Linked DNA regions of Homo sapiens: region 2 is linked to region 1. Evidence: fine-mapped expression QTL. A gene starts in region 1. The other region holds a variant in brackets. All regions are shown on one strand. Distances are between the middles of the regions.

Region 1 (2,925 bases):
CCCAGCACTTTGGGACTCCGAGGTGGGCAGATCATGAGGTCAGGAAATCGAGATCATCCTGGCTAACACGGTGAAGCCCCGTCTCTACTAAAAATACAAAAAAATTAGCCGGGCATGGTGGAGGACGCCTGTAGTCCCAGCTACTCCGGAGGCTGAGGCAGGAGAATGGCGTGAACCCGGGAGGCGGAGCTTGCAGTGAGCCCAGGTCGCGCCACTGCACTCCAGCCTGGGCGACAGAGCGAGGCTCCGTCTCAAAAAAAAAAGTATGGTATAGTAAATACATAAGCAAGTAACATACTCATCTGTTATTATCAAGTACTATGTACTGTACATAATTGTATGTGCTACTCTTTTATGACTGGCAGCACAGTTTACAATAGCATCACCACAAACACATAATGCCTTGACTATGACATCACTAGGCGACAGGAATTTTTCAGCTCCATTATAATCTTATGGGACTACCGCTGTTATGAGGCACATGACTGTATATGTACATATATTTCCTAGCGTAGTCTATCCCACAAACGCAAGTAAAATATCCATTAGTGTCCCTAATGTAATTCATCAACTTCTTAGAAAAGTTATATCTCTACATACAAAATCACTTATAATAATCCATATATATTTGTGTTGAGAGTGTATATGTATATATTATACAATAAGTGATGGCAAGGTTTTTCAAATAGCTCATTATTCGTTTATAAATGGAAAATTTTAAAAAACTTCAGAAATATAGGACTAGAAGGGAACGCGGCCTGCCTGAGGGAGAGCAACTAAGAAGAACCTCGCGTTGAGAGCTCCTGCGGTCGGGGCTACCGGCGTGGCGGCGCCGGCGCCTGGTGGATGCGCCAGCATCTGCCTGGTGAGGGTTCCGCGCGGGGACTCGGAGGCGCTCCCACAGCAGCTGGGTGGGGAGCGCCCAGGCCCTCCGCGCCCACGCAGCCCTCCCAGTGCGACACCGGCTGCCCCACGCGCCGCCCGCCCGCCGAGGCTCTGCCGACCGCTGACAGGAAGACGCTGACGACCTTACCCGCCGCGCCGTGGTCCGACGGCCGTTGTGGCCCTTCCTGGAAGCGGCGAAGGTCCGGCCCGCCCACGCCGGCGAGCGCCAGACTAGGGTGAATGGGAAGGACCGCGCAGCACAGCCCTACCACGCCAGGCTCCGACGCCTCCTGGCCGTAACCGCCTGACCAAGAGCCACGCCTGCGCCCTGGCGAAGAGGCCACAATGGGGGTGGGGTCCCGAACGCGGCGCAAGGGATCCTGGGTGCCGGGCAGGTGAGGAGGGGCCCTGGCTCTTGCGAGATTCCACCGCGGGTACGCGGCGGCCCCCGATGTGACACCGACGGTGCTGGGGGTAAGGGGGGTGTTGGGGGTGCAGAGTGTGGCCCAAAAGTGTGCCCTAAAGGCAGATCAGATATGGTGCCCAAGTTAAAGACTCTAGTCTGACCTTTCTACCACCTGCATGCCTACCTAGGTATGGCCTAAAGGCGGGAGAAATGTGTGCCTTTGCAGAACAGGTGGCTCTGAGACCTCTGAAAGAGGTGACTTACACTTAAGATTTTCACAACTCGTGGGCGTGAATTTTCATTAAAAAGCCTCACTTACTAGTGAAGGATCGTATATATGTAATAAAACAGGTCTAAGAGGTATACAATTCTAAGGTAAAAATAATTACATATATATTAAAATACCCCATTTCTTTTTAAAGGTCTTATAAAAATTTAGTAAGTTAATGTTCTATATTTCACTCACGCAACAACTACAATATTTATTGAGCACTTACTATGTGCCAGGCACTGAGCTAGGCACAAAAAATACCTGGGTGACTTCATATTTCTTGGTGGGATCCACAGGAAAAAAAAATGTAGAGATTTGTTGGGGCCTATTACATCTAAGGCTGTGTTTAATATTTTAAAAATCAGCTTCCCATTTTTGTTACAATATTTAATAAGTTTAAATATATAACCATTCGGCATATTACAGTAAAATCTATGTATGAATTTGAGTCTTTGAGACGCTGTTTGGTAAGAGGGTTTAGGTATTGGGGGTAAGGAAATATGTCACTTTAAAAAGGAAAAACATTTTGGAAATAATGTTTTTATATGCCAATAATCATTTCCATTTGAATAAAATTGGCCAAAAAGTTGAGAGTCGTAACTTAAAAAAAATCAGTCAATAGACTGTCTAAAACAAAATAAGATCAACAAAAAAGACAGACTATGAAGGGCCGCCTGAGTTCACATCCAGTGTTCCTTATCTCAGTAAATAGCAATTCTATTTGCTTAAACCAAAAATCACTGGCGTTATCCTTGACATTTCCCACTCCCTTACCTTATATAGGCTTATTCTTTTTTGTATAACTTACTATAAAAGTGAATAAAGTATATCTATAGTATTTCATCTTAACTTGATTGGTTTTAGTAATCTATTTTTTTAAATGCATTTATACGTTCTTTCCCAGTGCTTTCTGTAATCATTTTTTAAATGTTTTTTAATGAAATTATTTCAATGGAAAAATGAAGTCAGATTTTATGATAAAAAGTCAGCCTGATTTGGCTAATTGATTTGACAATGCTGATTATACAGCAGACATTTTCCATAAATTAAATGAGCTAAATCCACAGATTCACAGTTTTGACAAAAAAAAATTGAAAAACATAAAAATGTCTTTAAAATTGTATTGGCAAAAGTGTATTAAACTTTTTTTTTAATTTTACTTTAAGTTCTGGGATACAAGTGCCGAACGTGTAGGTTTGTTACATAGGTATACATGTGCCATGGTGGTTTGCTGCACCTATCAACCCATCATCTAAGTTTTAAGTCCCGCATGCATTAGCTATCTGTCCTAATGTTCTCCCTCTCCTTACTTCCCAATCCCTGACAGGCCCTGGTGTGTGTTGTTCCCCTCCCTGTGTCCATG
Region 2 (2,925 bases), 56 kb after region 1:
TTTAGATTATTTTTCTAACTCACCCTAGAAGCCAGACAGACTTGCTCAGAAAGCTGGCTTGTTCCTGCAATAAATCAAGCATTTTGAGCAAAAGGCTGTTCCTCTCCCAACAGTGAACACGTGCCTTAATATTAACACAGCCTTCTCGGGGCCTTAAGACTAATACAGCCTTCTCCAGAACAGACGCCGCAAGACTAACACGGCTCATAATCTGCTTTTCACAGGTGCACTGAAGTGTGCGGTCTGGTCACCCAGCCCGGCAGCCAGAGGGGAAGCCTTGCCCTTTATTCAGCTTAGGGCAGAAACCATTCAGGCATTCATGTCAAAAGAAAAATCACTGCAAAAGAAAAATGAAAACCCTACTAGTTGTTAATTTGACTCAATATTTATATTTAATAGTTACATTTAATATTGCTATTATAAATGTCATTTTCCCACTTTTGATGGGACTTTATATATAAATGTATATACACAGAGCAACATATTCATTTAATAATCATTCATATTGTTTCTAAAATGAACTGAACACTGTGGAAGTTGCTGTCACCAGCTATTTCATCACATCTCCTCCATATTTCAATTTTTACTGAATATTATATTAGAAGTCTAAAATCCTCCAAGCTCCAAATATAACTTTTAAAGGCAATATCAAATCAATATTTAAAAGAGTGAGGGTAGGAAATCCAGTAGAATTGCAAACCCATTACAGATAGATTTCAATGGTCTGGATTCGTTAAGAAAAAGGATTTTAAAATAAAAATGCATTAGGTCTACAGTCAACATGATCCTCATATTTTGCTCTCTGACCATGGCTCAGAAATTGCCAGGTCTGGCCTCTCATTTCTTCTTTCCCAGGATTACAAGGAAGACTTTGAACTCAGCTCCAGAGTTCACCTAAAGATTAACCTGTAAATGGACTGTAGCTGTTAAAAAGAAAAAAAAATTGTGAGTCCATTAGGCTGAGAAGACTCTTGTGCCTCAGATTCCTGCAAAAGCAAACCTAAGCTCAATATAAACAGAAAAATGAAACTTAAGCTTAACCAATCAGAAACCACCAGTTAACCTCTAACTAGGAACTTTCCACTTTAGCCAAATTTTTTTTTATATAAAAGTAAATATTTTTTACTTCCCCAAACACCTTATAAAATTTTCCTCTCTCTGCCTCCCGGGTCCCCCACAGTGGAGTGCTGAACCATGGGTGGTCCAGTGTTATTGATTCATGAATTCCTGTCTACTCAAATATACTCTTTAAAGTTTTAATGTGCCTAAGTTTATCTTTTAAAATAGCCCATGATGTGGTGGCTTTTAAACTTTATTTGGGGATGATAATCAGAGGTGCCATAAGCAGCAGTGAGATTTTAAATGAGTCACTAAAACCCGTCTTGGCTCAGTTTTCCTTATTGTGAAATGAGGCATCTGTGGATTTATGACAAGAGCTAGGAAGCGTGGAGTAATCTGTAGGTGGGAAAAAAGAATTGCAGATCATATGAAAGATTTAGCAGCAGACTTCCACAGTTGTCATGTAGAAAAGGTCAGATGCATGTTTCTTTATGCCCAGCCCCCAGCTGGGTGTCTGATCTTGCCTGCCTCCTCAGTGAAGGAGAGGAGGGGAGAGTTGGTGAAAGGAGAGGGAGTGAATAGGAGAGGAGACA[AG/G]GAGGGAGAAGAGAAAGGAAAGAGAATAAATGAATGAGTAATGAATGAGTGATGCAGGGAGGTCAATGCGTGAAGGTGATGGGTTACTCACACTCATCAAGCCTGGTGACAAGTGGACCTGGGCAGAAGTAGCTGGATGAGTCCCTAAAGCCTCTAGCCTTTCCCTAGCCTTTCAAGGTGCTCTAGTCACTTCTCTGGAGAAGGAGGTGGAGCCACCCTACCTCAGCTCTGCAGCCCCAGAGCTGGAGAAAATGCTCCAAACTGCAGAAGCCTGGCCAGGGTGCTCAACACTGCAACATTTTTTACAGTTGCTGCTTTTCTCAAAGACTTTTAAATGATGGTTGTAATACTGGAAAATGAGTGTTTAAATCATACTTTAGACAGGAGGGAACCTAAAACTTATTCGATTCCACCTTTTAACTTTGTGGATAAAGAAAACAAAGACCATATTTTATTGCAGCATACTCTCATGAATAATGACACACTTTGTAGAAAACGTCCAATAAAAGATGACCTATTGATGGCAGTGCTATTTCACAGCTGCTTCTATATTGAATCTCCCCAACTGGATTGAAAATATATCAAGGACAGAGATGGTGACGAGCCACTTCTTAGTTTTGCATCAAACAGAGGCCCATGAACACTGCACATGCTTATAAATATGCAACACCCAAGCCATACAATGCACATAAAGCACACATATGTGCACACATAGAGAATACACTCTGTCATCCATACGCACACATGTATGTATGCGCACACATGCATATGCCACACGTGCATGTGCCATACACGTGCACATAGAAACACATTCACTCACATACCTACACCAGGACTGTAATACACATACACGTACCTGTGCATCTGCACACACATGCACACTTATGCACATAAACAAGCATGCACATATACATATGCACCCATCCTCTAAATTCTGTTTTCTGGACCAATCCACAAGTGCTGCATGACTAATAAGGCCATGAGTGATTTTACTGAACACACTGATTGTTGTTTAAAATCTGTACCAATAGCTCTTTGAGAAAATAATCTAAATATATTGTTCTCAAGTCCCTCAACTGAGACTAAAAAATTATAATAGGCTCTGAAGAGAAGTTAGCTTTATAAGAAAATAAGACAGCCCCAAAATACTGCTCTCTACCATATGACAGCACCTCGGGGGGATTTATTCACATTTTTATACCTGTTCTGAGGGAAAGAAAAACACTTGGTTCTCCCAGAGAAGAAAGATGTACAAAAGAATACTAGTAATAA

Evidence for each region. PIP is the estimated chance that this variant, and not a neighbour inherited with it, causes the effect. A credible set is the group of variants that fine-mapping cannot tell apart.
Region 2: its variant is the best candidate, but not a certain one, in a credible set for the expression of DNAH14 in thyroid (GTEx, PIP 0.59).

What each region holds. Positions count from the first base shown.
Region 1 is chr1:224,927,944-224,930,868 of GRCh38, reverse strand. DNAH14 (dynein axonemal heavy chain 14) reads right to left here and starts at 1,194. Exons shown (of 86, transcript NM_001367479.1): 1 at 1,034-1,194. LOC105373109 (a long non-coding RNA gene) reads left to right here and starts at 1,298. Exons shown (of 3, transcript XR_949207.2): 1 at 1,298-1,359. RefSeq lists a silencer at 860-959.
Region 2 is chr1:224,872,211-224,875,135 of GRCh38, reverse strand. No RefSeq gene overlaps it. Among named protein-coding and RNA genes, the nearest start is that of DNAH14, 56 kb to the left of the region's middle. The variant AG/G (reference allele first, on the strand shown) is at 1,653.